Regions from separate parts of the Homo sapiens genome. Here region 1 is linked to region 2. Evidence: fine-mapped expression QTL. A gene starts in region 2. The other region holds a variant in brackets. All regions are shown on one strand. Distances are between the middles of the regions. Region 1 overlaps C1QTNF3 (C1q and TNF related 3). Region 2 holds the start of C1QTNF3 (C1q and TNF related 3).

Region 1 (4,398 bases), 23 kb before region 2:
TTATTAACAGCTTTTAAAATGTCTAGGCTTTTTTACCAAATAATCTCACTTCTGGAAATTTAATCAAAGGAAATAATTATATGCACACATAGTTTATTTTTTTAAAAAGAGAATGCTCATGACATATTATTTGTAATAAAAAAAAAATAATATTTTCCAAAACAGGAAAGTTAAATAAATTATGCAGTCATTAAAATTATGTTTTCAAATTGTCCTTAGTAGCATTTGAGAGTGTTCTTAATATGTTTAGTCCAACCCATTAGAGCAAGATACAAAAATATATAAAAAGCTAATTTCAAATTATTTTATTACTATATTTAAAAATAAAAGCCATAAATACATGCAGGAAAAGACTGAAATAAACACTTTAAAATAGTAATATTATTTAATATTTGATGGGATGATTAATTTTATACTAAATATTTTGGGGAATTTTATAAATTTTCTATAGTGAGTTTTTTAAATAAAAATATATATATTTAAATATAACACTTCAAACATACCAAAGCAAGAAATTGTCTCTGGCCATCAGATATTATCTTTTCCACAAGCTTTTCTTATGCTCTCAGCTAGATACTGTTTCTCTCTCCTGTGAATTCCTAGCCCTTTGCCTTCTATGGCTGTAAAAACATTCTACTTTATGTTTTGTTATCCATGTACTTATTCCCTTTAGCCTATTGTCCTCTACTAGGTTGAAAAATTAGGGAAGGTAAGAATTGTACTTTAAATGCCATAGGAGTGCCTGGAATAGCACAGTATCTTGCATAAAGTAAATGTTTATGAATTCCAGCCACATCATTTGGAGTTTACATTTGCATATTCCATCCTCTGAATTATTTTTTTACATTTTAATTTTGACTTCAGCTTTTATTCATGATACAATCAATAAAATTCCTTCAATATAATCTCTTTGTTGTCCAAGGGTCAAATATAATGTTTTCTACACTGGAAAATTACCAAGGCTGATCATTATGTGAAACAGTTCTACACCATATTACATCCCTGAAGCAAGCAGAAACTCAAGTGCTTCGTTTGCAGAGTTGTTTTAAGATTTAGAATTTGCGGCTGGGTGCGGGGGCTCACGCCTGTAATCCCAGCACTTTGGAAGACCGAGGCAGGCAGATCACCTGAGGTCAGGAGTTCCAGACCGGCCTGGTCAACATGGTGAAACCCCATCTCTATTAGAAACATTAAAAATTAGCTGGTCCTGGTGGTGGGCGCCTGTAGTCCCAGCTACTCAGGAGGCTGAGGTAGGAGAGTCACTTGAACCCAGGAGGCGGAGGCTGCGGTGAGCTGAGATCATGCCACTGCACTCCAGCCTGGGCAGCAGCGTGAAACTGTCTCAAAAAAAAAAAAGATTTAGAATTTGCAAGTTTGTTTATTAGATGGTACATGTAAATTTCCTATGACACCTACCTACTGTTTCCTTTTTAGCATCTCAGTTTTGGGACACTTGTGAAATCAGTCTTCCAAGTATATTTCTGGTCATGGGTAAATTGTGAAGGCATTGGAAATTATCTGCACCTTTTCCCATCTCTGTTGTGAATCAATTTCCCACACACCTGGGACTTGTTGCCTACAACCAAACCTTGTGTGTCACTAAGGTGAAAACTTAGAATTTAAGCATGAACATTACAAAGACTTAAGGTATGTGATAAAAAACCTCTTTCCTTACAGGTATTCAGATTTTATTTGTGAGCCCTCTAAACATCAATGTCTTAAAGGGTTGACATTATAACAATGGAATAACTGAAAAGCGAAGTTTTCTGAAGTCATATGACCCTGCTGTGTGCCCAAGTCACCTATTCACATGGCTGTTCACATCATCTGCATGAAAATATTTTCACTTTCTGTTAACCATAGTGATTTACAATTCTATGACTATTAAAGTTTATTAAACACAAGTTTAGAAAGTATCTTTAACAAAGGTGTGTTTATTTCCATATATTGCTCATTACATTTTTCTTGCCACAGTTTTATCTAAAGCCAGGTCAAAATCTTTCTCTAAGGTATTTATTAATAGTGTATGTTCTTCAGATATAAAATCCCTCTGGTCAACATGCAACATTTGAATATCTATTGGCACTGTACCTCTATGAGATATTTATGACATTTGTTAATAGTGAACCTCAACCTCCTGACC[C/G]CACATCCGAAGTTGGGGGCGATGTGGGGGAACATACACAAAATTACAACCACATTACTGGTCAAGCACTTTATAGCTAAAATCTATTGACTTTAAAATAGCATTGTATGTGAATTCAGAGTTTTAATGTATTTTGTGGATCAAAAGGAAAGGGTCAAAGGCTAAGCTGAACACGGAGGGCACTAAATTAGCTAATAAGGCAGCTAGTGCCCCTGTTCTTGCCCCAGCCCTGTCATATCACTACATCCGATTCTCTCAAATGTTATAAAGAATAATGAACTTAAAACTTCAGGGGTTCCTGAAAACTGGTATTAAATTAAAAGCAGAGTAGTCAAAATTCTTTGCAAATGACTTCTGTGATAGAAAAAAATATTTCCAACCTGCGTCAGAGGAGAATTATCTTTTAGGTGCCAAGGAAAGAGTGATAAAGATGCTGAGTATATTAGTCAAGGTCATCTGAGAAGACTATTTTGTGGTTGATTCTTCTGAGCCCCTGAATTGTCCAACATTATTGGTGTACCTGTAGCGTGAACAACATTGCAACCAATAATTTTTTGAATACAGCAATGTAAAACCCTCAACTTTAATGTTCCTCAGATCGTAACAAATCAGCTCAGCTACAAGTCTTCCCCAAAGTGGAGCTATTCTAGTCATATATTTACTTAGTTTCAAAGAGCAGGAATCCTGCAAAGGTGGAGAAGCGTTGGTGGTCCCCATGGAGAGCGCCATTGCCCATTCGCAGCCAAACCTCATCCCCTTTGGCTAGCTTCAGCACAGCATGATTGCTGGATGTATCTGATTTGCCCTTCATTTCATAGCTGGAAAGAAAAAGAGGAACAAACTACTTAGTTTTTGCCATGAACAACCAGCTCTTCACCAAAGTCTGTGCTCCCCTTCTCTCCTTCCCACAGGTATAATCCTGCGGCTAAGTTCTCTAAACAGCCTGTGAGCAGAAATGACCTATGTACCACTTCTAAAGCTGGCTAGTAACACTCTCACAAAACCCCTCCCTGCTCCTTCTTATGACTGTCTGGAATGTTCATGACAATGACCAGAATGATCTTAGAAGCCATATGTTGAATACTGGGTTCTTGGAGACCATGTGGAAAAGAGCTCTCTCTCTTCTCTGCTCCAACCTGGAACAACCTTGGGCTGTTTGATGAGAAGGAAAGAAAGTTATATTATGTTTGAGCTATTCCACTGGGTTTTTGTTACAGTAATTTAGCTTCCCCTAACCAAGCTAGAATTTGGTACAAAAGGAGGCTGCTCCGCAACCCAAATAAAAATAGGCTTGCACTGGCTCATGGTCAGGCAAGGAGCAATGGGGAAACAAATATCATGGTCTGGGAAAGCAGAAGATCCATGTTACACTGTGCAAAAACATTTGGAAAATGTGATAACTTGGAAGACAGATCTAATGCCTGTAGGGTAAGAAAGGGAAGTGACTGGAAAAAGCCAAAGTACTCTTTGCTGCTTTTAGAAAGATGTTGCTACCAAAGATGAGTTAGGCAAAAACTGACTTGTTTGAAGAAAAGGAAGTAAATAATGTCTACGTGATTAGGGCCTAACAAGGTTAAAAAAGCCAGGTGTCTTTATATCTGGAAGAGCAGTGATAAAGTTGATGTTTTTTCCTTAAGACTACTCATTCAGCAGCCATAAAAAAGAATGAGTTCATGCCCTTTGCAGGGACATGCATGAAGCTGTAAGTCATCATTCTCAGCAAACTAACAAACACAGGAACAGAAAACCAAACACCGCATATTCTCACTCATAAGTGGGAGTTGAACAATGAGAACACATGGACACATGGAGGGGAACATCACACACCAGGACCTGTGGCAGGGTGAGGGGAAAGGGGAGGGAGAGCATTAGGACAAATAACTAACACATGCAGGGTTTGAAACCTAGATGATGAGTTGATAGGTGCAGCAAACCACCATGGCACATGTATACCTGTGTAACAAACCTGCACATTCTGCACATGTATCCTGGAACTTAAAGTAAAATCATAATAAAAAAAGACTACTCATTCAATCAAGTAGACACAGCTGTGGCACAATCTGATGGATTAAAAATATTGCCTTTCTGCCCAAATCGATTGCTTTAGAAGGCCTCAGGGTAACTCCATTAACTTGAGAGAAAGGCATGAAGACAAGGAATAGCAGGCTGAAAACTGTCAAGAAAAGTATATGGAGTGTGGTTTAGTAACACATGTAACTGACTTCACTTAATCTATTTAACAAATGAAGTAAAAG
Region 2 (4,398 bases):
AAAACTTCCAGAATGTCAGTAACTCTAAATATCCTCAATATCTCCTGTTGGTGGTTTGTTTGAAAATACTTCAGGAACCTAGAAGGTAGAGTGAAGGAGAAATGTGATTTGAATTTCAGTGGCCTGCTGGGTGTTGGTTGTCAGGACATAATGACCAAAGACAACCTTTAACTTCCTTCTGCTTCCTCTGGGGGAATCACACTGTCATGGCCAGGAAAGATACCATCTGTTGGCCAAGAAGGATACCATGTGTGAAATGGAAAGTCCAGATCAAGTCTTGGACACAAGTGAAAATATCTTCACCACAAAACAAAAACAAACAAAAACCCACACACAAATTAGTGCTAATCATTACCCTTTAGCCAAAAGATTATCAGATGAATAGACAATCTCTAAAAGTGGTTTTCAAAAGATAGGATCATATTTAGAGATTATCATTTCTTCCGTGGCTCCTTAAAGAAGCAATTTTCTCTGGATGCATCCCCCACAGAATGGTTTGGGCAACTGCCTTGTGTGGTCAAGTTAGAAGTTCTGGGTTAGTTTCAAATCTGCAATTGATTCTGTGTGTGATCTTGGTCTGACCATATAACCAAACAACCAACCCAAACTTCTGAATCCATGGTAGGAAGGATTTAGATTTCAATTACAAGAAATTCTTCAGGTCCTATTTAATGCATTAAAGTAATCAAATCTTGTAGTAAAAACCTGTATGTTCAAATATCATATAACTCAAAGTAACTCTTCTTGCCCCCTCTGACAGTTTTCAGCATACTAGATGTCTAGAGGGTAATTCAAAATATGTCTCTTCCTGTACTTAATATTTTAAATTACATTGAGTTTCACCAATTTGCAATTCACTATACTGAAATCTTAACTCACTCTCATACTACCAAGAGTTAAAGATATTTCCTTAGAGCTGAATTTATAACCTGAGAAATAGATCAAGTCCTCTGTGATTATCAGGCATCAAATCATGCTATAAGGTATGCATTTCAAACAGTTTATTTTTTATTTAACTCTTTAATTCTTTTTAAAACAGGCTGAACAGAGAGGCTTAACAATCTAGAATGCTATAAATCAAATAAACAAGACTGCCATGAAATGTCACAGTATACTCACAAATCAAAGTAAAAAAACTTTGATTGCTTTTGACAAACTCAAAGGGCAGCTTCTCCCTGCCGGAAGGGATGAAGAAAGCCCAATTCTCTTAAGAACAACAAATGATTGTCTACAGTGACCGATCTGTCTGCATGGGTCAGCACTCCTTTCCGGACCAACAGAGCAAGAAGGAAATCAAGTCCCAGCATAGCAGGAAGCTGGCTGGCCAGGTTCCCCTTTCTGATGGGGTGATGCTACGGCCACTATCCCATCACATCATTGCTGCCTCTGCTGATTTTCTAACAGAGACCGACAGTCTCTCTTGTACCCAAGAGCAATCCAGAAAGAGATTCACAAGCAGCTTAGCGAACTTCTCGAAAGCATTCATTGATTCTAAGAATCTTAGCCAAAAAAAGAACAACAACAAAACAACAACAACAACACTCATTAAGCTTTCACAAAAATCCTTAGAAGAGAATTCTGAGTACCTGGCCCCAGAATGTGGTGATCTGGGCTAGGTCATCTACCTCGGGGTGCGGTAGCTCATCTGGTCTCAGGGATTTTAGGTCTGTAGAAGTGTTATTATCCACAGTCCCAGTTTTAGGATGGCTCCGCTCTCTCACTTTCTCCCTCCTGGAGCCGCTACGGCCAGTCTGCTGGTGGCTTTGCACTATTCTTGCCACCACTTTATTAGTTCTTCCGCTCACCTCCATGTATTCATCTTGACACAGGCAAAAAGGGAGGAAAAACAAAGCCAGCAGTTGCCAATAGATGAGCTGCCTCCAAAGCATGATTCTCAACAGAGCCTCAGAGTCTCCCTGAGAAGACAGCAGAGCTCCAGGAGCGTGGTCTCCTCGGGCAGATGCCAGGACTGGAGCTGAGAGCTGCAGCGGCGGAGTGGTTTTATACTTTGGTGTGTAATAAATAAGGCTGTAGGCATGCCAGAGTGACAGCAGCCCTCCTCCCCAGGCAGAACAGCCCCCATTCATCATTTTCCCACACCACAAGCAAGAACGATTTGTGTGCACAGTTCCCAGTTGGCGAAATTCATAAATGTCACACCTTGGCACGTTTCTGTTGAAGTGTGAAGAAAACATACACAACCAGCTGGGAACAGAGAGCATGTGTCCAGCAGTTTGCTTTTGTGATTAGACATGGAAAGGCTGTGTATTTGCAGTCTAAAAAGCCTTTTGGAAAAATCTACCCTTGTGCTTGCCAGGAAATTCAGGCTTAACTGCATCAGTTTTGTCTGAAATAGCAGTGGGAACCCATTCAGGGCTTTCACGACAGCTCTTGGTTTCTAGCTGTACTGTTAGTATTTCCCCACTTTGGCCCACTTAAGGTAACTCATTTCCCCTTCCGGATACCAGTGGCAGAAGGCAGTTGGTTGCCTACAAAACACTGAGCAGGATTCAGGTGCAGTGTCTCTGGGTTTAGCAAAGGTATTTCGCCACCCTCAGCTTTACTTCTTTTCCCCATGACTTCCCAAAAGCCAAAATTAAATCAAAGTTAACTAAGTCACTTATTGTCAGATGAAGATACAACACCCTGCTTTGTGTTAAGAGAAGGCTGTCTCTGGCTCCTCTTTCTTTTGACATATTCTTGATTAAAATAGAAACGGGGCCGGGCACAGTGGCTCATGCCTGTAATCCCAGCACCTTGAGAGCCCAAGACAGGTAGATCCCTTGAGCCCAGAAATTCGAGGCCAGCCTGGGCAACTTAGTGAGACCCTGTCTCTACTTAAAAAATAAATAAATAACAAAACTGAAGAAGTGGAAAGCACCAAACACGTTATTTCAAACACAGCGTATCCAGATTAAGAGGATTCTCATGTCTTTGCTTTAGTTGCTATACTTTTATTAATTCAGCCAAAAAGAAAATGGACATTCCTAATTGCTTCAGGATAATAAATTAAGAGAATTTAAACAGTTTTGTCATCAAAAATTGCTTCTATTTACATATGATTTTATTTATATTACTCATTCACTCGCTTAAGAAAATGTTACTGGCCTTCTCTCATGAAAACTGGAGAGACCCAGGACCGTAAATAGCATGGGTGGCAAGCGTCTGATGAGAAGGGGGCGAGGAGGCACTGTGGGAAACTGAGGCTTGGAGAAGCTCAGCCTGCTGATGAAGAGTCAGAGCAGCTGGGGAAAGGGGAGAGGAGAGAGAGCTGTTGACAGCTGCCCCCATTGCTCAGCCAAGGGCCTGAGAACCAAGAGCCATCTCTGGAAGTGGCCAGAACTGTCAAAACTAGCCTGGCCCCTCCTGCAGCTACCAGAACAGCCGCTTCCAGAGTCCACACTTATACATGGAAAGGGTTTGGTGCTGGGGACGGAGGGAGAGAGTTACTCTGTGAACTAAAAGCTCTCCAGGCCACAGTTCAGGGGCCTTGGGAGTCATGTTCAGTCCAAGCAGTCAGTTCCCACCTAGTAGGGCATAAAAATTCAGCCATCTCTGTGCTACAAGTCTACCCTTGAGCATCTAAACCTTCCTCACTGGAGGATTCCTTGAGTTCTGTCATGTCCACCATTAAAAGGTAGATGTCCCTGGGAAGGGAAGTGTGTCAAACTGTTATTCTTAGTAACTGAGGATTTTCTTCCCAGACCTGGAGCTGGAGCTGGGGAAAGGATGGCGCCTGTGTTTGGAGGGTGAGCAAGTGGATGGGCTTTTGCTGTGGGAAGGAAAGCCCAGAGCAGTGTCTCAGTGGGGGTGTTCCCTCCTCAGGGAGGCCCAGAGAAAATGTCACAGGGAGACCACAAAGCAAGCAGTGGCTCTGAAATCTAGGTCACCCAATTCACAGGTTTTCCAAGAGCTGTCTCTGGCTCTCACCATCATGCATCCCCCACGAAGTGGGCCATACTGCTAAGTAACTATAAATCAGCCTCTGACTTTCTACCGCATTGAGACTTTCCATTCGTGTTTTCAATCCTGTCATCTATTCTAGTGGTTCTCAACCCTGGCTGCATATTAAACCAAGGAGCTTCTAAAAATATTAATGCCTGGACTCTATCCCAGACCAATTGAGTCAGAATCTGTACTGGGGCCTGGGCAGTTTTTAAAAGCTTCCCTCAGATGATTCTAAGGTGCATCCAGGGTTAGGAATCACTGATCCATCCTCTCATTGACTCAAAAGGAATAAATAATAATATCCATAATTTGTTAAGCACTTACCATGTGCTAGCCAAGTACTACTTTGCTTTATCTCACTGACTTCTGTTGGCAAACCTATGATCCCATCTTATAGATGAGGTGATAGAAGCTTGCAGAGGTAAAGTGACTTGTCTTGTGTTATGCAGC

Evidence for each region. PIP is the estimated chance that this variant, and not a neighbour inherited with it, causes the effect. A credible set is the group of variants that fine-mapping cannot tell apart.
Region 1: its variant is the best candidate, but not a certain one, in a credible set for the expression of C1QTNF3 in whole blood (TOPMed, PIP 0.50).

The regions. Positions count from the first base shown.
Region 1 is chr5:34,017,782-34,022,179 of GRCh38, forward strand. C1QTNF3 (C1q and TNF related 3) reads right to left here. Exons shown (of 6, transcript NM_181435.6): 6 at 77-2,961. The coding sequence ends at 2,802. C1QTNF3-AMACR (C1QTNF3-AMACR readthrough (NMD candidate)) reads right to left here. Exons shown (of 9, transcript NR_037951.1): 6 at 2,806-2,961. Among named protein-coding and RNA genes, the nearest start is that of AMACR, 12 kb to the left of the region's middle. The variant C/G (reference allele first, on the strand shown) is at 2,144.
Region 2 is chr5:34,041,237-34,045,634 of GRCh38, forward strand. It overlaps C1QTNF3 (C1q and TNF related 3), which reads right to left and starts at 1,977. Exons shown (of 6, transcript NM_181435.6): 1 at 1,587-1,977. The coding sequence starts at 1,889. The region is part of intron 1 of C1QTNF3-AMACR (C1QTNF3-AMACR readthrough (NMD candidate)); the gene reads right to left.